Linked DNA regions of Homo sapiens: all the other regions are linked to region 1. The links come from fine-mapping of genetic effects on gene expression. A gene starts in region 1. Each other region holds a variant in brackets. All regions are shown on one strand. Distances are from middle to middle. Region 1 holds the start of PAM (peptidylglycine alpha-amidating monooxygenase). Region 2 overlaps PAM (peptidylglycine alpha-amidating monooxygenase). Region 3 has its middle 43 kb from the start of GIN1.

What was found. PIP is the estimated chance that this variant, and not a neighbour inherited with it, causes the effect.
Region 2: its variant is the best candidate, but not a certain one, in a credible set for the expression of PAM in whole blood (TwinsUK, PIP 0.57).
Region 3: its variant is the best candidate, but not a certain one, in a credible set for the expression of PAM in whole blood (INTERVAL, PIP 0.57).

Annotation. Positions count from the first base shown.
Region 1 is chr5:102,750,931-102,758,931 of GRCh38, forward strand. PAM (peptidylglycine alpha-amidating monooxygenase) reads left to right here and starts at 4,375. Exons shown (of 26, transcript NM_001177306.2): 1 at 4,375-4,418. RefSeq lists enhancers at 3,404-3,929, 4,937-5,437, 5,009-5,098 and a silencer at 4,069-4,618.
Region 2 is chr5:102,790,125-102,798,125 of GRCh38, forward strand. All of the region lies in intron 1 of PAM (peptidylglycine alpha-amidating monooxygenase), which reads left to right. Among named protein-coding and RNA genes, the nearest start is that of PAM, 39 kb to the left of the region's middle. The variant G/GA (reference allele first, on the strand shown) is at 3,248.
Region 3 is chr5:103,072,841-103,080,841 of GRCh38, forward strand. No RefSeq gene overlaps it. Among named protein-coding and RNA genes, the nearest start is that of GIN1, 43 kb to the right of the region's middle. The variant G/A (reference allele first, on the strand shown) is at 3,175.

The DNA.
Region 1 (8,001 bases):
GTGTGCATTTGTTTTTTTTTTAATTTTCAAAGAAGCCTGTAGGCCTGAACAGTTGCCAAGTTGTTCAGAGTAAGTTCTGTCCATCAGACCCATCTTTACATAAAATGACTATGAGAAAAGTCTTAAAGGGTACAGGAAATATTTTCCATGAATCCTCCTTTACTCTCTCACTTCTGCTTGAAATGTCACTCTTTTTCAAGGCAAACACTAGTAGGAAGTAGCATCTGAAGTCCCTAACACTTTTGTGTGAGGCAAACTGACTTGGAGAACTGGCAGTATTAGTTGGACAAGGCTGCTATGAAATAAAACTGAAAAAAGAGAGACGTTTACAAAGGAATGTCCATCTCCATCTACTTTGCAACACTGACGGAGACCAATTCTCCTGTCTGTAAATAAACCCTCCCATTCTTTTAGCTGTCAGAGTTTCTCCAGGAAGAAACTAGACCCTTTATCCTCATCAGCTGACTGGTCACCTTTTGCAGTAAGATCATACCATTAATATAAAATTAAAATAATCAATACCAAGGGATTACCATATTCAGAAAGGATATAAGTTTAATAAGGTTCTTTCAAGGACTATTTCTCTTTTGATGAGAAGAAAAAGAGAAATTTCTACCCTCTTGAACTTTCAATGGCCTAGCCTTTTGAGCATTAGAGGAAACAAGCGGGGGGCGGAGAAAGAGATTTTTTAAATTAAATTGGATATAGTATTTTTGAAAGTAAAACTGGGACACTAAGGACTAGTTTTGTAATGACAGAGTGCAGAGACAACCTCAGGTGGGGTGGAGCCCTGAGGAGAGTGAAAAGGGAGGCTTCTCCTCACCTAAGTGGAGGTGGTTGGCTCCACTGCCCAAGCTGGCCTGCACACAGAATGGAATGCCTTGAGGCTGTAAGTCTGAGGCTCTGAGGTGAGGTGCACTACTGGGCGTCTGACAGCACAGCTAAAATTGGCTGTGCCAACCAGTGAGAGGTGACAGCATGCCGGCAGCCCTCGCTTGCTCTGGGCACCTCCGTGGCCTTGGCGCCCACTCTGGCCGCGCTTGAGGAGCCCTTCAGCCCGCCGCTGCACTGTGGGAGCCCCTTCCTGCAATGGCGGAGGTCGGAGCCGGCTCCCTCAGCTTGCAGGGAGGTGTGGAGGGAGAGGCGAGGGCGGGAACCAGGGCTGAGCAGGGCGCTTGCAGGCCAGCTAGAGTTCCGGGTGGGCGTGGGCTTGGCGGGCCCACACTCGGAGTGGCCGGCCGGCCTCGCCCGCCAGGGCAGTGAGGGGCTTAGCACCCGGGCCAGCAGCTGCGGAGGGTGCGCCTGGTCCCCCAGCAGTGCTGGCCCACTGGCACTGCACTCGATTTCTCGCTGGGCCTTAGCTACCTCCCTGCGGGGCAGGGCTCGGGACCTGCAGCCCGCCATGCCTGAGCCTCCCCCAAGGCTGTGGGCTCCTGCGCTACCGAACCTCCCCAAGCCTCCTAGACTAGCGCTGCCCCCTGCTCCATCAGCACTCTGTGTCTAGCTCAGGGTTTGTGGATGCACCAATCAGCACTCTGTATCTAGCTAATCTGGTGGGGACCTGGAGAATCTTTATGTCTAGCTAAGGGATTGTGAATACACCAATCAGCACTCTGTGTCTAGCTCAAGGTTTGTAAATGCATCAATCAGCACCCTGTGTCTAGCTCAAGGTTTGTAAATCCACCAATCAGTACTCTGTATCTAGCTGATCTGGTGGGGACTTGGAGAACCTTTATGTCTAGCTAAGAGATTGTGAATACACTAATCAGCACTCTGTATCTAGCTAATCTAGTGGGACTTGGAGAACTTTTGTGTCTAACTCAGGGATTGTAAACGCACCAATCAGCACCCTGTCAAAACGGACCAATCAGCTCTCTGTAAAACAGACCAATCAGCTCTCTGTAAAATGGACCAATCAGCAGGATGTGCGTGGGGCCAGATAAGGGACTAAAAGCAGGCTGCCCCAGTAGCAACTCGCTGGGGTCCCTTTCTACACTGGAGAAGCTTTGCTCTTTTGCTCTTTGCAATAAATCTTGCTGCTGCTCACTTTTTGGGTCCACACTGCCTTTATGAGCTGTAACACTCACCACGAAGGTCTGCAGCTTCACTCCTGAGCCAGTGAGACCACGAACCCACCAGAAGGAAGAAACTCCAAACACATCCAAACATCAGAAGGAACAAACTCCAGACATGCTGCCTTTAAGAACTGTAACACTCACAGAGAGGGTCCGCGGCTTCATTCTTGAAGTCAGTGAGACCAAGAACTCACCAATTCCAGACACACCAGGACCTTGAGGGTGTGAGAGGTTACCGTCAGGTTACATTTAGAAGTGTTGTCCCAACTACTCTCCCACATTTAAGGCAAAAATATAGTCACCACTGAACAAGAAAATCATCTTGGCACAAAAATGTACTGAATTGAAGAAAGAAAACAAAGAGAAACAAAACACCATAGCCTAGAACTCCTGCCCCTCCACATTTTCTTCTCTCTCTCACACCACAAACTTTCTCTCTGTGACACACACACACACACACACACAGAGGAGAGACGTATTTGAGGGAGGGTCTCAAGTGCTTGCTTTCCTTAACAACCCAGACCAGGAGGAAGAGATAAAGTGACTTAGGAGATGCCTAAAGATGAAGAACAGCCCGGGATCCGTAAACAGACTCAGCTCGGTGTCTTCTCGCACCTTCTCAGAATCAAGTTTCCAAAATGAGGGTCATCCGCCTGCCTTGGAATTTGGGTTGGGAAGTGGATGGAGTTCCTGGACACATGCTCTAGGCCCTGACCAGTCTGGCCACTGCTCACTAGGAATTCTGTTGGGAGGGTGTACAACAGATTTTCCAACTGGTCTACAGCGAGCATCGGTAGTTTCCCTATGGAGAAAATGATTTTCTTTCTGGGAATCCCCCTATAGCCTGAAGGCTTTGCCTCATTTCCCATAGCTCCTCTCCGGTGTACCCCTTCGGTTCGCACTTTCCTACCTTCTTCCCAGTCCACTGGCTTCTCCTTCTTTATCTTCCTCAGTGTCCCTTCTCACAACCTCCCTGCTACCACACCAGATTCTGAAGGGGAGGAGTTGTCTGGAAAGACCAGAGCTGGGTGCTGGGGATCTGGAGCAGCTCGGGACCCGCGCTGCAGGGAGCTGGGATGGGAGAGGTGAGGGAGAGGAGGATGGGACTCTGGGAGAAAGAGAGGGGGCTGGGCTGGCGCTGGGGATGGAAGAGGCGAGGTGAACGCACTCAAGCGGTTACCTGCAGACAGGGAGAGACAGTGGCAAATACCTGCCTTCAATTAAACGCATATCAATTTGTGTGTGGGGTCAGTACTGCACATCATCAAGCCTCTTGGGTATAAAACCTTCCTACTGGAACTCTCCAGCCCCGCCCCCACCACCCCACGCGCGGCTCCCTGCTTTCTCTTGCTTTGGGGTGAGGCTGGGGATGTGGGTGGCTCCAGAGTTCCCTGCCCGCAGTTTAGGGGCGAAGTGATCGGTGTGTGCGCGCTGGGCACTCTGCGGGTTAAAAAGGTTTAGCAGAAAGGGATGCAGATGGAGGCGGGAAGCCAGGCTAAGAAAGGGATACCGACCTCCCTCCTCGGGTCGGAGGTGTGAACTGGGAAGCACTGCGCAGACCTGAGCGAGGTGGCCTGAATCCAGGGGCCGGGCAAGGGGGTGGTGTGAATAGAAATAGCACATTTCCCAGGCTTTCAGCCCCGGTACTCTGCCATCCTTCCAGTTCCATGCACTCAGCCAGGTCTCCAGGCTGGAGCAAGGGCTGGGGGTCAATGGGTCCTTCCTTCTCTCGGGAAACGTTCTTCTGGCGCGAAGCTGGGCGGAGGGAGAGTCGGACATTTTCCTCTGCTTCTCTCAGGGCAGCTGGCGTGGCCACCTCGCAAGGCTGCTTCTAGGGACACGAGACTCGGGAGGGTCAGAGACTTTCAGGCCGGGCCTTCACTCCCTTCCCCGGGGCACTTGGGCAAGAGTTCCAGCTCTTGGCTACCTCTGGCCCGCGCGTGAGTTCAGACACCCAGCACACGCGACCCCCGCAGGGAAACCCCGGGAAGCTGCGCGCAATCGCTGGGGACTCGCCAGGGCTCCACTTCCCAAGCTCCGCGCCCCCTGCGCCCAAAGAGGCAGGGCGGAGCAGAGGCCGCCGGCGTGGAGGAGGCGAGCGCGGGGCTGGCCCGGGAGCCGCCCCCGGGGAGGGACTGAGACCTGCCCCAGGAGTCGAGGGCGAGCGGCGGACCCGGCTGGGCCCGGCGCACGCCGAGGAGAGGGAGCCCCCGCCACCGCCGCTGCCTCCGCGTGCTCAGCCTGTCCCCGCCCAGGGAGCCGGAGCCTCCAACTAACTCCGCCCGCCGCTCCGCCGCCCGCAGGCTCCGGCTTCCGTCCCGGACAGAGCCCGTGGTCGCGCAGGTTGGTGTTGTTGCCGCTGCTGCCGCCACTGCGAGGCGGTCAGGGCAAGGGTGAGGGTGGGGGCGCGGAAGGGGGCCTGGGCTCGGGATCCTGCTGCCACCAATTCCTGGTGCCCCAGGAGGTTGTTGCTTTTTCTCCCGGGCTGCCCGGGTCGGGGGTGGGGGGATGGGGCGGGGATCCAGCGATGCGGCCAGGGAGGATTTTGGGGACTGAGCTATTCTCGCATTTCCCAAACCTCTCTCACGACCCTTCATCACCATTATTAAGTCCCTGGCCAGTTTGTGAGGGGTCGTCCTCCCCTCCGGTCCTTCTCACCTCCGCACTTCTCCTTGTGCCCTCTCCCTAGGGGGTACAATTTGTTCATTCGCCTTTTCTGCCCCCAACTTGGAGAACTCTCCGTGACGCCTAGAAAGCCTCCTCGGTTCTCCGCCCGCCCTTCAGTCTAGTTTGGGGAAGTAGAGGCCGCCGCGGAGTAGCAACCTGGGGTGTGGAGTGGGGGCGAGTGCCGGGAAGCAGTGGAAATTCCTTCCCCTCTTTCTTTCCCGTCCTTGCCCAGCTTTGCTCTCTTCCTGCCGTTTTGCCAGCCTCCGAATGTAATACGCGGGCGAAGGGCGATCTCCAAGGCAGAATGGGAAGTATCCACCACTTGGGATACTAGTTAAGTCTAGGTTCAGTCACCTTCCCAGCTCTGTGGCCTTGGGACCCGCCCCATCGGAACCTGTATGTTGTCATCTGCAAAATATGCGTCAGCTCTGCCTGCCGCTGAGGGTAGTTGTGGGGCTCCCTTGGGATGACTTAGGGTATTACGTGATTTTGAGCACGGTCTCTTGTCTCGTGCAGCTGCCTGATGGCAGGTCCTGTGTTCTGATCGTCTGAGTTCAGGTCCTTTGGCTGAGATGTGATTATCTCTCTGGGTGATTTGGTCAGTAGCTTTGCGGGGCTAAAAGGCATGTGTTCCTGGAGCTGGTCATTGGGGTTCAGAGTTGAAATCGTGTCGTCCCCACCAATCCCTGTGTACAAAGCTATGGACCTTACATCCTGTGCCTTTGTGGTCATAGAAATTCAAGTAGAAGGAAGATCTTATTGGACTTTGTTTGCTTCAGATGTTTTACATTCTTTACAATCGCTTTTCTCTTCTAGGTGCAAACTTAAATTTACTGCTAATTCTAATAATCCAGGAAGGATACTTTCATTTTAGTAAAATCAGACATTTAGCTCAAATAACATGTGACATATTGTTTGTAAATTTTCAGTTTATAATCACAGGCACAAAAAAGCATAGTTCATGCCATTCTAGTTACTTTATAAAGCAAGTAAATGGCCTAAAAAATCAGCTTTACAGGAAGTCAGGGCTGCAGTGAACTGTGTTTATACCACTGCACTCCAGCCTCGGTGACAGAGCAAGACCCTGTCTCAAAAATAAATAATCAGCTTTAGAATTGATATTAAATGGTAAGCCCTGTCGTTCCTGCATTCCTGACTTAATAGGCATTTTCATTCCGCGATGCACTCTGCTATATGCTTTAAAGATATAAAGATATAGAGTATGTTCCTTGTCCTGAAGGGCCTTCCAAGGTAACTTAAAGACTATGTAGTTTTATTTCATATTTTTATATGAACAGTCTTCTAATGACTATACATGGCAAGTAGAATGAGGTCAAGAATGCATTATCAAAGGCCCTTTAAGATCATCATTTGGCCGGCTGCGGTGGCTCACGCCTGTAATCCCAGCACTTTGGGAGGCCGAGGCGGGCAAATCACAAGGTCAGAAGTTCCGTACCAGCCTGGCCGACATGGTGAAATCCCATCTCTACTAAAAATACAAAAAATTACTTGGGCATAGTGGCAGGCACCTGTAATCCCAGCTACTTGGGAGACTGAGGCAGGAGAATCGCTTGAACCTGGGAGGTGGAGGTTTCAGTGAGCTGAGATCACTCCACACACTCCAGCCCTGGTGACAGAGTGAGACTCTCTCAAAAAAAGATAAAACTAAATAAATAAATAGATAAAAAATCATTTGGTGAGTTTGCATAATTGGAAGAAATAACAAGTTTGTTAAGACATTGCTTTCTAAAATAAAATGCCATGTGCTCCTACTTCATCAAGGTGCACTTGGAAATAAAATGAATTCTGTGTTTTTAGAATGAAAGCTTAGGAAAACATTCTACACATGTATGATGTGCTAATCAAATGTTAAAAGCTATAGAAATTTTAATTCTAACTTCCTTCAACTGTATGTTGTGGTTCCCACATACAGTTTTTTTCTCAACTCCTTGAGGAAGGAAATTATAATGCCTAGAAAAAATATACAGAGATTTAATGTAAGATTTTTAATAAGCTGGACCTTAAGGCCTGGTGGGTCCTGAAGTGACTCTGGAAATTTGACTTTAAAAGTTACGAGACTTGGTGAGACTGAGTGTGGTGGCTCATGCCTGTAATCCCAACACTTTGAGAGGCTGAGGCGGGAGTATTGCTTGAGTTCAGGAGTTTGAAACCAGCAACATAGTGAGACCTTCTCTCTACAAAAAATATTAAAAGAAAAAAAAAGCCAGGTGTGGTGGTGCACGCCGGTAGTCCCAGCTACTCAAGAGGCTGAGGAGGGAGGATCTCTTGAAACTGGGAGGTTGAGGCTATAGTGAGCTGTGATCATGCCACCACACTCCAACTTGGGCCACAGAGAGAGGCCCTGTCTCAAAAAAAAAAAAAAAAAAGACTTAGAATTTTGTTTTTTTTTTTTTTTTTTTTTTTTTTTTTTTTTTTCTTGGGGCAAAGAATGAGCAAGAATTCCACCTGGAAAAGATTGACCAGGGATCTTGACTTTCTGTCTAGGTTGTATTTTGTGTGACTCAGTGACATCTCTGATTCTTTTCCTCCTCCTAGGAAGAATTTATCTATCTGCTATGTGCAGAATTTATTAGGCTTTACATACTGGGCTTTGAGGCTTTGATTGGACTCTCACATTAAGGCATGGCAGGCTGAGGGGCAGCCTGAGGGACATAATGTTAACTTTACACTTGGCTTTATTGTTCCATACCTTTGTTTTTCTATTTGTGAAATGAGATTAAAGATCCTTCTTACTGCCCTGGAAGCCGTGTCATCTGGTATAATAGCCATAAATGCTTCTTGTGTGTATAAGAACTTTCTTTACCATTTGAATGCGAAAGCTAATTATTAAAACCACATACAAATAGCTCAAAAGATGGGCTGTGAATAAAGCTGCTGTTGGTGTCATGTGCTCTCAGGTATCCTGGCAGAAATTTCAGTCATCATGTATCCCTACAATTTACTGTGTTGTGGAGAATAAGGCCTTCATTTTATCTGGGGTTGAATGTTTACCTCTCCAAAATGGGAATAATGAAATACTAACCTGAAAGGACTGTTGTCAGCATTAAATGAGCTAATCCATGTGTGGTTCTTAGCACATTGCCAGTATACAGCTATTGCTCTATGACTCAAGTAGTTATTTTAGTTTCTCCAGGGTAGGGGGAGGGGGGAAGGAATGGAATTTCAGTGGTCCACATTTTAAAAATGAATACATATATAAAAATATAAATACACTCTTCCCCAATATTTTGAAATAGCC
Region 2 (8,001 bases), 39 kb after region 1:
TTCATGTGCAAAATAATCAGCTTAACTGCAACTCTTAAAGTCTGCTTACATGCTCAGTGAACAGATAGAAAACACAGCATTTAAAATACAAATAATTAAAACATGTCCTGTCCGACATAGGAGATTATGGAAACGAATGTGTCCTGGCTATGCCGCAAATTTTTGTTGTTGATATAAAAAAACAGTAACTTTATCTGAGGATGGACAATTGGTTTGGCTGAAAGACTGCCTCTAGGATCGATAGTGCTATTATTCCCATTGTATAGATGCACAAAGAGGTTTAGAGAGATCACAGCAGAGCTTGTAGCCATCTTACTGCTTATTTTACAATGACAGTAGCTTTCAATAAGCCTGTGGTTCTTATGAGGATGATTTGACTATTATCCTGGGAATAGATCTAAGTGATGAGAAACCTATCCTAATAGTGTGGTATTAGGTTAGATAGAGCTTCTTCATATGGTATTAGGTTAGACAGAGATACTTTTGCCAGGTAGAGAAGCGATGCCTCTCTCTTCATTTCTGTGGGCATAGAATCAATTTTAGCCTCTTACAGAACACTATTTTCATTATTCTCAGCAGTGCTATTCTAGTTATCAGAAACTGAGCATCAGATATAAGAAGTCACATAATTTTATTTTTCTGAGCAATTATATTTCCCCCCATTGTTTTCTTGAATTATACTTGTTCATTATGAAAAATTGTCAAATGCAAAAAAACATAAGCACAAAGAAGACAATATTTTTAAATTACCCATTATTTTACTACCCAGAGATAAGCACTGATATCATTTGTTTGTGTGTCAGCCATTCTGCTGTTCTGTTCATGCATATATGCACATATACAAACAGAGATTCAAAACCATAAGACATAAAATTAAGATAACTGAGCAATATTTTTCACTGAGCATTAGATAGTGAACATTTTCTCCTGTCACTAAATGTTCTTTTACAGCTGCATCTAAGTAGCTGCATTACATTTTATTTTATGCCTCTATCAGTCCTCTATTATTGGGATCTTAGAAATTTGTTTTTGCTGTTATAAATGACACTCTGATGAAAATACTTTTAGATTAATTTTTTCCTATCTCTACTTTCTTAAAATAAATTTCTAGAAGTAAAATTAAGTAGAAGAGTGTGGATATTTTTATGTGTTTGATACGTATATGCCAAATTGTTCTTTAAAAAAGCCATGTGACAGTTTATATTTCTGTGGCAGTCTGTATGAGAACACCCATTTCCCAGCCTGAAATTAGCTTTCTTTTTTTTAACTGCCAATTCAAGAATACGTTATAACTTGGATTGATAACATGAACATTTTTTATATTATTTTTGAACATTTTTATATTATTTTTACTTCTACATGTGGTTACTCTGTTGATGTTTTCCTCTTTTCTTTTATATTTGTAAGACTTATTTATGTGTTAAAGACATTAACCCAGTTGTATTTTATTTCTTTTGCAACTACTTTTTCTCCAGCAGATTCTTCTGTTTTCAACATTTTGCCAAGTGTTACTGAAGAAAAAATAAAATAAATTTTAAAACCAAACCAAAAAACCTCTTTAGATAGCTAACTTTATTTGGGGTTTGTTTCTGAATGCAAGATAGGCATACTGTAGTAAATTCCCTTCTTTCAACCCTGGGTTGAAATCCTGTCAATTAATTAGTTGTATTTAGTCTTACAATAGATAAACCAGGTAGTTTCACATAGCCTGTTTCTAGGGTTTTATCTAGGACATCGTAGGAGTTTCTTGAAGGAAAATATAGCTATAGGGAACATTTTAATTTGGATCTGCTTCATTACTCCAAATATTGTTGAAACAACACCAGATGTCATCTTTACTGGGCAATATACAAACATTGGGAGAAGTTGTACCCATACTAATAAGGGTGAACATAAAAAATGGACTATTGCTCAGATTTGTGTTCTTTACAGCAGAGTGTTTGACAAACTCTTTGATCCTTCTTTTTTTTCACAAGTGGAGATTAGAGCCATTTATTGTTTGGGGGTTGTAATTTATATTTAAACATGGTATGTATGGAATTTAGGAAATTCACCTTAGACATATGAAGCTTAACATTAATGTGTGTGTATATGTGGGTTTGTGTATATGCTGGAGGGAATAAGAAGTGACAAAAGTAATCTAAAATCTTAATGTTGAGAAAAATATTAAAGGTAAATGAAATCTTTATTGTCATAAACTGCTCTCCAATCCAGTACTGATAAACGACGTGGGGAAAGACTATGGAGGTTACTTTCAAAACAAACATTTACCATGTTCCAGGAAATACATGTGTTTGTATAAAAAGCAGGTAGCAATTACATAAACTTTTTTCTTCTTTATCTATTTGCCAAGCAATTGGCTGTTAAGGTCTTTTTGGTTGCCTTTGGGCACTTTGTGTGCACTCTTTTCTGCTTTTAAAAACATAATGCATGGTAACCCATTTGCCACTGACTGGCATTGTGAAGAGTTGGAATGGGGCAGTGTAATAACATGAAAGGCTGATGACAAATTTAGTATTTGTAATTTGGAATCTCTTCTCAGTACATTAGAAGTCTTCCCTATTTAAAGGAACCCTGAAACCATCATTTTATCAAGTGAAGAGTTTGTAACACATGATTACCATTGGTTTTCTTACAAATCAGAATACAGCTTCAGTTTTTGAGGCTCCTACCACAGTTATTATGGTGGTCTCTTACTGGCTGACACTTTGATTATGAGCAGGAAATGTGCTTTCTGCAGCCACACACACACAAAAAGTGACACAAAAGTATTAGGTCATACAGTAGCACGTAAGTTCAGAGTGCCTCCTAGTGGAGTCTAGTGTTGATCAAGTAACATTGGAATAATTTTTTCATTCCTCTAAAAAAATCTCCCCTTTGGCATCATGGTTGGTTATGAATCTTGGGCCTCATAGGAGCACAACATTCTCCACTAAAATAATGTTTTACTCATACTTTTTCCTTTCTTCCTTTAAAAATTAGGTAAGATACCTTCTCTGAATGTGTGAATTTTTTATAGAACACCGAAGATTCTTTGCGTTTAAAATTCCCTCCGTGTAAATTAAGTCCAAAGTGCCTAGGCTTTTCCATTTCTAATGTTTAAGTTAAAGACTTGTAAATTGGGCTGGGTGCAGTGGCTCATGCCTGTAACCCCTGCACTTTGGCAGATTCGGAGGATCCCTTGAGCCCAGGAGTTTGGGAGCAGTCTGGGCAACATAGGGAGACCCCTGTCTCTTCAAAAAAAAAT[G/GA]AAAAAAAAAATAGCTGAGCATGGTGGCACACACCTGTGGTACTAGCTATTTGGGAGGCTGACGTGGGAGGATTGCTTGAGCCTGGGAGGTGGAGGCTGCAGTGAGCCTGATCGCACCACTGCTCTCCAGCCTGGGTGACAGAGTGAGACACTGTCTCAAAACAAAACAACAACCAAAGACACTTGTCAGTGGAAATGTTTGAAATTTTGGAACTATTAGAATGTATTTAACTAAAACAGCTATTGCTTAAATGCAGCATTTTAAGTACTGGTTTTTTTCAAAGCTCAGACAAGCAGCAATATAGAAATATCCCTGGTCATTTAAGAAACTGAGCCAGGAACAGATTTTAAAACACTTTTGAAAATATTAAATGCTTTAAGTAATTATAGCAAGTATTTTATCCTAAGTTTATATACACAATTAATTTATCAATTTGTAGTGATTATAGTAAGAGAAGATTACTTTTATACTTAGAATAAAAAACTTTTAAAGTCAGCAATATGTGAAATATGTATTGAATATATTATGCTATATTTATCTGAGTATTTTGGTTTAACAAATTAAATGCATATTTTTTTCTTTTTAAAAAATGTATTGACCATATTTATATAACTACTTATCTTTTTATTTGGTAGATTTAAGTAAAATTTATTATTTATTTAACACTTTTGAATTTATATTATACTTGAAGTGGTTTATTTATCCTTGGCCAGCTACCCCCTTGAGACTCTGGCTTTCTATTTTATAGAACTATTTTAATGATAGTTTAAACATGTATACCTGTTACTGGTTATTTTCTGTTCCCCTTATCTTGGGAGTTCAGCATAATGCTGTGCGGATCAGGATAACAAGGTCCCACTGAGGTGAAGGAGGGAGGCTGGGAATGGCTACAGCCTGGAGTGGAGGTGTGATTTCAGTAGGTGGAAGGTTGTCTTCCTGAAAGGAATTGGCAGAAGTAGATTCTTACTGATTCAGATACATTTTCCACCAACTGAAGGAAGGAATTATTAAAGCCAATGGTGAACAAAGCATTTCAAGCATTTTATAGGAAGTGACTAGATGAGGAGATTTTTTTCATTCCTTTTTTAATCAGCAAAAAAGAAATTAGTATTATTGAATTAGCAGATTCTTCCTATTCTATATTAAGAAAGATTTAATTTTTGTACCAAGGAAGGTTAGGTGAAAAAAAAGATTTATTTTTTTTGTAGAAAACTGAAGATAGTTTGATTCAATATGAAACAGTGATATTTATATTTATGCTGATTCCACCACCAAAAAATTATTACATGTACAAATTAAATAGAGATTATCAGCTTAAAAAATATAGAACATTTACATGTGGCTATGAACATTCTGATGCTAATTTTTTTGTTTGATGACTATGTACTTTAAAATCTGGCATTGTCTTTCATGAGATTTACAAGTCCTGTGTCCATTGTGTTGTTTACTTAGGTTATTTGGCTTTCCTCAAACTTAAACAAGCATTAGCTGGTTGCTCCAAAGAGTAACAAAAGAAGATGCAGGAAAATGCTTGGGGCCAGGTGCGGTGGCTCACACCTGTAATCCTAGCACTCTGGCAGGCTGAGGCTCGCAGATCACTTGTGCCCAGGAGTTGGAGACCAGCCTGGTCAACATAGGGAAACCCCATCTCTACAAAAAATAAAAAAATTAGCTGGGAGTGGTGGTGGGCTCTGTTAGTCCCAGCTACTTGTGGGGCTGAGGCAGGAGAATCACTTGAACCCGGGAGGTTGAGGCCATAGTGAGTCATGATGGCACCACTGCACTCCAGCCAGGGTGACAAAGTGAGACAATGTCTCAAAAAAAAAAAAAAAAAAAAAAAGAAGAGAAGAAAAAGAAAAAGAAAAGTGCTTGGAATGGGAGATGAGTTATCCTACTTTGATACTTCTTGTTTCCTCTTTCTACTGATGTCTTTCTCTGCACATCCTTAGGTAAAACTCAAAAATTACTATTGAGATTTTTGCAGGAACCAAATGAGACAGGAAGAAATGTTTTAAACTGCTGTCTAACCTCTAATACTGGTGATGCCGTTTTTGGAGTACCACTAACAGTTTAAAAGTGCTTATCAGAGCAACTCTCGCTGCTTTAATTTGCGTGTACAGATTGCTGTTAGTGTTGTTACTATCTGTTTTGTATCAGGCTAGCTAATTTCCTTGTTTATTAACTAAATGACTTTCTTAATGGCTACCCTTTTGACAAATGAAGAAATCTTAGCTGCTCTGAGAGGGAAAACCAAAATTAAAAATTCACAGTGAAAGGGATGAGGAACATACGTATTTGTGCTGCTGCCGTGTGGTTGGTGTGAGAGAAAAATCTGGTGATTGACCTTGATCCCTAACGGAAAGTCACAAAAATATGTATAATTTGGTCTTCAGCCATAAAATAAATGGCAACTCTCTTCACTTAAAGCAGGGATTTTCATTCCTTTGTTTTGGGTGCGGAAAAGGGAATCTTTTCCAACCTCATTATCAGAGAGTTTAGTGCATTTTTTCCTGAAATGTTTTACAATTTCCATTTTGTCAGACACATTTTGTTGGAGTTCATAGTTTATTAACCATGAGTTATTTTTTTTAGTTTATACTTGAAGATTTAGAGGCCTGTGATATTTTGTTTAAAGGCTTCTAAATGATCCAAACAAATCAGAATATGCACCAGCCTCAGCAAAAACTCCTGTGATCTGTTGACAGATTTTTGGATCTGGGCCCTTGGAAGAGGCACTGGACATTTGTAACAGGAGGTAATTTGAGATCTGTACAAACAAGTTTTTATTTGTTCAAGTTAATGAGGGCAACACCAGTGGAGTTGGACCCTCTGTAGCTAATAGTCTGTGAGCTCCATGGGCCCTTCATGAAGTCAGTCTCCAAAGGTCACCTGCAATCCATGTTAGGAACCAGGTTTGTCGGTCAATAGTCTAGGACTCATAGATCGATCTGTGCCTCTGCAACCAGGGAATCTGACATGGTACCAAAATGTTTATTTATTTCCCAGATGTCATCCCAGAGTTTGGGCAATGAGATTGGATATTTGCAGTTCCACACAGTGGAAATTCACCTTTTAAATAAGGCAAGAAAAATTGATCTTCCTAGTGTCTGGTAGGAGTCTGGTAGGAGTCATCTTTGCTCTTGGTAAGATTATAATTCTCTTACCTGTTTATTGTCATTTTTTTGAGCACCACAGTCAGCCAAATAAGATTAGAGAAAATTGTGAAAGAGAAAGCATTTCTTTCAATTCAGTCCTTTCATTCAACTCTCTTTGTACTTTGCCTCCTTCATTTTCTTTCGTTTGCTCATCACATTCAGAAGCTCACATTCCCTCATCTTACATGAGGGAAGCTATAAATTTCCCTTTTTGAAATAGTCATCTGCTATCTGTGTAACTATGAGCAAGCTGCTTAACCTCTTTGTGCCTTGGTTTTCTTATTTGTAAAATGGTAATAGATATTACCTGTGTCATAAAGTCGTTACATGGATTGAATGCATTAAGGTGTGTCTAACACTTAACTCAGTACCTGGTTGTACAAAGTGCTAAATGACCATTTATCTAATTATTGCTAATGGAACCTAATAATAGAATAATGATAGAGAGCCATATGCTTCATTGCCAAGTTTCAAAATGCTAAACAAAAATGAATTGTGAATTATTTTGAATGTGCAACAGCACAAGGGCTGGTGTTTTGCTTCTTCTGTAAAAAACAGACTTAAAGAATATCTTTAACATACCAAAGGACTGTTGGGTCATTCTTCAGAAGACTACTGGCATAAAAGAGATTGTCCTAAGAATCCCAGGAATAATAATGAGTCTCTTATTTTTATTGGAAAAGGAGACAACAACAGCCATGGAACTGGTTATTTTATGTATCTTCTGTAACTTTCATTTCTCTCATAATAGACATGGTGCTTTTAAAAATCCAATGTGAATGCTCTAAATCATAAGATCATTATTAAATATTATTTTAAAATTAATATGTCATGGTGAGTGTATTTCTGAGCCATCACATTCATAAACATTTAGAATATAACCTCACCCTTTTGCTTAGAGAATACCTTATGCAAAATGATTTTGAAGGACATTTTGTTTCCTAGTATGTGTTTTCAGCAGGTGGCTAATGGCTTTCGACCTGCTGTAGCAGTATACAGAACTGAATGTCAGGCAGAATATTTTTTAAAGCTGCATTTCCATTTTGCATAATGAAGCACAATAATTTTTCTGAGAGTGCCTTGAATATTTTTCCAAAGAATTATTGATAGAGATATGTCATTTTGGTAGGAAAGAGAAGAGAAAATTGGCAATGTTCCAGCATTTAGGTTTTAAGAATATTTAAGTATAATCAGATTGCTAAATACAAACATTTTTTTAAAATAGTATCAGGTCAAATGTATTTACATGTTAGAAGCCATATAAAGTACATGGTATTAGCCTTCCACCTTTCCTGTATGCTTAGGCCATTGTTCCTACTACTACTACTACTAATAATAACACACTTCAACCTACTCACTTTTCTCTTTAGTAATTTCCATTTTCTCTTGAAATTCATACAGTATATTCTATGGCCTATTTTTATACAACTTTAAGAATTATACATACTAAAGAATAATTTTCAAATTTTGTGTGAAAATAGACAATGGCATATACTATATATAATGACAGAGATTGCTTAGGGCCCCAGGATTAACAGTTTCAGATCATTGTCAATGTTAGCTTCAAGTTAAGTATTGGCACAAGTATTTTTATAGAA
Region 3 (8,001 bases), 320 kb after region 1:
TTTGGCAATTTCATCGTAAAATCTTAGCCCATGCCTATGTCCTGAATGGTATTGCCTACGTTTTCTTCTAGGGTTTTTATGGTTTTGGGTTTCACATTTAAGTCTTAGATCCATCCTGAGTTAATTTTTGTATAAGGTGTAAGGAAGGGGTCCAGTTTCAGTTTTCTGCATATGGCCAGCCAGTTTTCTCAGCACCATTTACTAAATAGGGACTCTTTTCCCCATTGCTTGTTTTTGTCTGGTTTGTTGAAAATCAGATCGTTGTAGATGTGTGGCCTTATTTCTGAGGTCTCTATTCTGTTCCATTGGCCTACATGTCTGTGTTGGTACCAGTACCATGCTGTTTTGGTTACTGTAGCCTTTTAGTGTAGTTAGAAGTCAGGTAGTGTGATGCCTCCAGCTTTGTTCTTTCTGCTTAGGATTGTCTTGGCTATATGGGCTCTTTTTTGGTTCCATATAAATTTGAAAGTAGTTTTTTTTTTTCTAATTTTGTGAAGAATGTCAATGGTAGTTTGATGGGAATAGCACTGAATCTGTAAATTACTTTGGGCAGTATGGCCATTTTCACGATATTGATTCTTCCTGTCCATGAGGATGAAATGTTTTTCCATTTGTTTGTGTCCTCTCTTTTTGCTTTAGCAGTGGTTTGTAGTTCTCCTTGCAAAGGTCCTTCATGTCTGATATGGTTTGGCTCTGTGTCTCCAGCCAAATCTCATCTTGTAGCTCCCATAATTCACACATGCTGTGGGAGGGACCTGGTGGGAGATGATTGAATGATGGCTGTGAGTCTCTCCCATGCTGTTCTTGTGGTACTGAATGGGTCTCACAGGATCTGATGCGTTTTAAAATGGGAGTTGCCCTGCACAAGCTCTCTTTTTGCCTGCTGCCATCCATGTAAGATGTGACTTGCTCCTCCTTGCCTTCCACCAAGATTGTGAGGCCTCCCCAGCCACGTGGAACGGTAAATCCAGTAAACCTCTTTGTTTTGTAAATTGCCCAGTCTGGAGTATGTCTTTATCAGCAGCGTGAAAACAGACTAATGAAGTAAATTGGTACTAGTAGAGTAAGGCATTGCTGAAAAGATACCTGAAAATATGGAAGCAACATTGGAACTGGGTAACAGGCAGAGGTTGGAACAGTCTGGAGGGCTCAGAAGAAGACAGGAAAATGTGGGAAAGTTTGGAACTTCCTAAAGACTTCTGAATGGCTTTGACAAAAATGCTGATAGTGATATGAACAATAAGGTCCAGGCTGAGGTGGTCTCAGATGGAGATAAGGAACTTGTTGGGAACTGGAGCAAAGGTAACTCTTGTAATGTTTCATCAAAGAGACTGGTGGCATTTTGCCCCTGCCCAGGAGACTTGTGGAACTTGGAACTGGAGGCAGATGATTTAGGATCTGGCAGAAGAAATTTCTAAGCAGCAAAACATTCAAGAGGTGACTTGGGTGCTGTTAAAAGGATTCAGTTTTGAAAGTGAAACACAGCATAAAACTTTGGAAAATTTGCAGCCAGACAATGCAATAGAAAAGAAAATCCCATTTTCTGAGGCAAAATTCAAGCTGGCTGCAGAAATCTGCAAAAGTAATGAGGAGCTGAATGTTAATTCTGAAGACAATAGGGAAAATGTCTTCAGGGCATTTCAGAGGTCTTCACAGCAGCCCCTCCCATCACAGGCCCAGAGGCCTAGGGGGAAAAGATGGTTTTGTGGGCCAGGTCCAGGACCCCCCCTGCTCTGTGCAGCCTAGGGACTTGGTACACTGTGTTCTAGCTGCTCCAGCCATGGAAGAAAGGGGCCAGGGTACAGCTCAGGCTGTTGCTTCAGAGGGTGGAAGCCCCAATTCTTATCAGCTTCTACACAGTATTGAATCTGTAAGTGCACAGATGTCAAGAATTGAGGTTTGGGAACCTCTGCCTAGATTTCAGAAGATTTATGAAAATGCCTGGATGCCCAGGAAGAAGTTTGCTGCAGGGGTGGGGCCCTCATGGAGAACCTCTGCTACGGCAGTGCAGAAGGGAAATGTGGGGTCAGAGATGCCGTGCAGAGTCCTTACTGGGGGAGCACCTAGTGGAGCAGTGAGAAGAGGGCCACCATCCTCCAGACCCCAGACTGGTAGATCCATGGAGAGCTTGCACCGTGTGCCTGAAAAAGCCAAAGACATTCAATGCCAGCCTGTGAAAGCAACTGGGAGAGAGGCTATACCCTGCAAAGCCACAGGGGTGGAGGTGCCAAAGAATATGGGAACCTACCTATTGCATCAGTGTGACTTGGATGTGAGACATGGAGTCAAGAGATCATTTTGGAGCTTTAACTGCCCTGCTGGATATTGGACTTGCATGGGGCCTGTAGTCCCTTTGTTTTGGCCAATTTCTCCCATTTGGAGAGGCTGTATTTATCCAATGCCTCTACCCCCATTGTATCTAGCAAGTAACTAACTTGCTTTTCATATTACAGGCTCATAGGCAGAGGGACTTGCCTTGTCTCAGATGAAACTTTGGACTGTGGACATTTCGGTTAATGTCAAAATGAGCTGAGACTTTGGGTGACTGTTGGGAAGACATGATTGGTTTTGAAATGTGGAGATATGAGATATGAGAGGGAATAATATTGTCTGGTTCTGTGTCCCCACCCAAATGTCATCTTGTATCTCCCGTAATTCCCACGTGTTGTGGGAGGGACACAGTGGGAGATGATTGAATTATGGGGTGGGTCTCTCCCATGCTGTTCTCATGATAGTGAATGGGTCTCACGAGATCTGATGGTTTTAGAAATGGGAGATGTCCTGCATAAGCTCTCCTTTTGTCTGCTGCCATCCATGTAAGATGTGACTTGCTCCTCCTTGCCATCCGCCATGATTGTGAAACCTCCCCAGCCACATGAAACTGTTAAGTCCAATGAACCTCTTTAGTAAATTGCCCAGTCTTGGGTATGTCTTTACCAGCAGTGTGAAAAGACTAATACAACAACCCTTGTTAGCTGTATTCCTAGATATTTTATTCTTTTTGTAGCAACTGTGAATGGGAGTTCACTCATGATATGGCTCTCTGCTTGTGTATTGTTAATGTATAGAAATGCTTGTGAATTTTGCACACTGATTTTGTATCTGACACTTTGCTGAAATTGCTTATCAGCTGAAATGAGGGGGTTTTCTACATATAGGATCATCTTGTCTGCA[G/A]ACGGAGACAATTTGACTTTCTCTCTTCCTATTTGAATACCGTTTCTGTCTTTCTCTTGCTTGACTGCTCTGGTCAGAAGTTCCAAAACTATGTTGAATAGGAGTGATGAGAGGGCATCCTTGTCTTGTGCCGGTCTTCAAAGCCCTGTGCCAGTCTTCAAAGGGAATATTCTGCTTTTGCCTGTTCAGTATGATATTGGCTGTGGGTTTGTCATAAATAGCTCTTATTATTTTGAGATATGTTCCATCAATACCTGATTTATAGAGTTTTTAACATGAAGGGATGTTGAATTTTCTCAAAGGCCTTTTCTGCATCTATTGAGATAATCTTGTGGTTTTTGTCATTGGTTCTGTTTATGTGATGGGTTACATTTACTGATGTGCGTATGTTGAACCGGCCTTGCATCCCAAGGATAAAACCAACTTGATCATGGTGGATAACCTTTTGATGTGCTGCTGGATACAGTTTGCCAGTATATTATCGAGGATTTTCACATGGATGTTCATCAGGGATATTGGCCTGAAGTTTTCTTTTTTGTAGTGTCTCTGCCAGGTTTTGGTATCAGGATGATGCTGGCCTCATAAAATGAGTTAGGAAGGAGTCCCTCCTTTTCAATTGTTTGGAATAGTTTCAGAAGCAACGGTACCAGCTCCTCTTTGTATCTCTGGTAGAATTTGGTTGTAAATCTGTCTGGTCCTGGGCTTTGTTTGGTTGGTAAGCTATTTATTACTGCCTCAATTTTGGAACTTGGTATTTGCCGATTCAGGGATTTGACTTCTTCCTGGTTTAGTCTTGGGAGGGTGTATGTATCCAGGAATTTATCCATTTCTTCTAGATTTTCTAGTTTATTTGCACAGGAGTGTTCATAGTATATTTTATGGTAGTTTGTATTTCTGTGGGGTCAGTGATGATATCCCCTTTATCATTTTTTATTGTGTCTGTTTGATTCTTCTTTCTTTTCTTCTTTACTATCTAGCTAGTGTTCCATTTTGTTAATTTTTCCAAAAAAATAAACCACTCCTGGATTCATTTATTTTTTTGAAGAGTTGTTTCTCTATCTCCTCCAGTTCCATTCTGATCTTAGTTATTTCTAGTCTTCTGTTAGCTCTGGACTTGTTTGCTCTTGCTTCTCTAGGTCTTTTGTGATGTTATGGTGTTGACCTGAGATCTTTCTAGCTGACGTGGGCATTTAGTGCTATACATTTCCCCCTTAATACTGCTTTAGCTACAGCTCAGTGATTCTAGTACATTGTCTCTTTGTTCTCATTGGTTTCAAAGAACTTCTTGATGTCTGCCTTAATTTCATTATTTACCCAGGAGTCATTCAGGAGCAGGTTGTCCAATTTCCATGTAGTTTTGTGGTTTTCAGGGAGTTTCTTAATCCTGAGTTCCAATTTGATTGCATTGTGGTCTGAGAGACTGTTATTATTTCAGTTCTTTTGCATTTGCTGAGGAGTGTTTTACTTCCAAATATATGGTCGATTTTATAATAAGTGCCATGTGGCACTGAGAAGAATGTATATTTTGTTGTTTGGAGGTGGAGAGTTCCGTAGATATATATTAGGTCCACTTGATCCAGAGCTAAGTACAAGTCCTGAATATCCTTGTTAATTTTCTCTCTCATTGGTCTAATATTGACAGTGTGGTGTTAATATCTCACACTATTATTGCGTGGAAGTCTAAATCTCTTTGTAGGTCTCTAAGAACTTATTTTATGAATCTGGGTGTTCCTGTATTGGGTGCATATATATATATCTTCTTGTTGAATTGATCCCTTTACCATTATGTTAATGCTCTTCTTCGTCTTTTTTTAAATCTTTGTTGGTTTAAAGTCTGTTTTGTCAGAGACTAGGATTGCAACCCCTGCTATTTTGCTATTTTGCTTGGTAAATTTTCCTCCGTCACTTTATTTTGAGCCTATGTGTGTCTTTGCATGTGAGATGGATCTCTTGAATGCAGCACACTGATGAGTCTTGACTCTATCCAATTTGCCAGTCTGTGTCTTTTAATTGGGGCATTTAGTCCATTTACATTTAAGGTTAATATTGTTATGTGTGAATTTGATCCTGTCATCATGAGGCTAGCTGGTTATTTTACACACTAGTTGATGCAGCTTCTTCATCGTGTCATTGGTCTTTATATTTTGTGTGTTTTTGCAGTGACTTGTACTGGTTTTTCCTTTCCATATTTAGGGCTTCCTTCAGGAGCTCTTGCAAGGCAGGTCTGGTGGTGATGAATTCCCTCAGCATTTGCTTCTCTGAAAAGGATTTTATTTCTACTTTGCTTATGATGCTTAGTTTAGCCAGATATGAAATTCTGGGCTGAAAATTCTTTTAAGAATGTTGAATATTGGTTCCCACTCTCTTCTGGCTTGTTGAATTTCTGCTAAGAGATCTGCCTTCTATTAGTCTGATGAGCTTCCCTTTGTAGGTGACCTCACCTTTCTCTCTGGCTGCCATAACATTTTTCCTTCATTTCGACCTTGGAGAATCTGATGATTACGTGTCTTGGGGTTGATCTTCTCATGGAATATCTTAGTGGGGTTCTCTGTATTTCCTAAATTTGAATGTTGGCCTGTCTTGCTAGTTTGGGGAAGTTCTCCTGGATAAAATCCTTAAGTGTGTTATCCAACTTGGTTCCCCTCTCCCCATCTCTTTCAGGTATTCCAATCAGTCATAAGTTCAGTCTTTTTACATAGTCCCATATTTCTCAGAGGTTGTGTTCGTTCCTTTTCATTCTTTTCCTCTAATCTTGGCTGTCTCCCTTATTTCAGCAAGATGGTCTTCAATCTCTAATATTCTTTCTTCTGCTTGATCAACTTGGATATTGATATTGTGTATGCTTCACAAAGTTCTCATGCTTTATTTTTCAGCTCCATCAGGTCATTTATGTTCCTCTCTAAACTGGTTATTCTAGTTAGCATCTCCTGTAGCCTTTCATCAAGGTTCTTAGCTTCTTTGCATTGGGTTAGAACATGAGCCTTTACCTCAGCAAAGTTTGTTCTTGCCCACCTTCTGAAGTCTACTTCTGTCAATTCATCCATCTCATTCTCCATCCAGTACTGCACCCTTGTTGGGGAGGTGTTGCAATTATTTGGAAAACAGGCACTCTGGTCTTTTGGGTTTTCAGTGTTTTTTTCATTGATCCTTTCTCATCTTCATGAATTTGTCTAGTTTCTATCTTTGAGGCTGCTGACCCTTGGATGAGGTTTTTGTGGGGACATTTTTTGTTCATGCTGTTGTTGCTTTTTTTTTTTTTTTCAATAGTCAGGTCCCTTTTCTGTAGGCCTGCTGCAGTTTGCTGGTGGCTCACTTCAGGCCTTAGTCATCTGTTTTGCTTCCATGCCTGGAGATGTCACTCAAGGAGGCTGGAGAACAGCAAAGATGGGTGCCTGCTCCTTCTTCTGGGATCTCAGACCTTGAGGGTCACTTACCTGATGCCAGTAGGAATGCTCCTTTATAGGGTGTCTGACAACCCCTGTTGGGGTGGTCTCAACCAGTTGGGTGGCACAGGAAGCAGGATCCATTTAACAAAGCAATTTGGCTGTCCTTAGTGGATGGGGTGTGCTGTGCTGAGGGAATACCCACTCGTCTGGGCTGCCTGGATTCCTCAAAGCTAGCAGGAGGAAAGACTAAGTCTGTTGGTCCATGGAGATTATGGTCACCCCTTCCACTAGGGGCTCAGGCCCACGGAGGTCAGAGTTCTGTCTGTGAGCCCTGGGCTGGAGTTGTTGGAGTTCCTGCAGGCAAGTCCTGCCCAAGGAGGAGGGATGTATCAGGGTCTGGCCTGAAGAGGCAATCTGGCCGTGGTCTGCCACAACCGGTGTGCTGGGCTGTGGGGATACCTCTTGGGTCCAGCCATCCAGCCTCCCTGGATCCAGCAGGGTAAAAGTGCAGCCCAGAGCTATAGTGATAGCTGCTGCCCTTCCCCACAAAGAGCTTAGTGTGTTAGGTAGCTAGCAGCTGCAGTGTTGGCTGCCATCCCTTCCCCAAGGAGCTCAGATGGCTTAGACCGCAGGCAGCCACAGAAGTGGCAATAGCTGTCCCTCCCCTCAGGAACTCAGCAGGCACAGGCAGATTCTAGCTGAGTGGTTTTTGAGAATCTGCATGGCTCTGTGGTTGGAACCCAAGGTCCTGGTGGTGCTGTACAGTTCCGTGGAAAAAGGATGGTTCACCAGGCTTGGTAGCATGCTCACTCACTGCCTTCCTTGGCTGTGGATGAGGGCTCCCCTGCCCCATGTGGCTCTCAGGTGGGCCGTCACACTACACAGATCTTCCTTCATCTCCATGGGTCGTGCCAGCCACCTAGTCAGTCCTGATGACAGAACCTGGATCTTATTTGCCATTGCAGGATTCGGACGCTATTTTGGTTCTTTTCAATGAGAGCCTCCAATTGCTGCTGCTTCTAGTCGGCCATCTTGGCCTCACTAATCCCAGTTATGTTCTTTTTGCTCAAGACTGATTTGACTATTCATTCTTTTTGGTCCCACTCAAATTTTAGAATTGTTTTTCATATTTCTGTGAAAAATGTTGTTGAAATTTTGATAGGGACTGCACTGAATCTATACAGCACTTTGTGTTGTATGAACTTTTAAACATTAATTCTTCCAATCCATGAACATGGGATATTTTTTCATTTGCATATTCTTCAATTTCTTTCTTCAATGTTTTATAGATTTCAGTATACAGAACTTTCACCTCCAAAGTATTTTTTTGCATTATTGTAAATGGGACTTCCTTGATTTCTTTTTCAGATGGTTGTTAGTGTATAGAAACAATAATGATTTTTGTACACTGAGTTTGTATCCTGTAACTGTATTAAGTTTA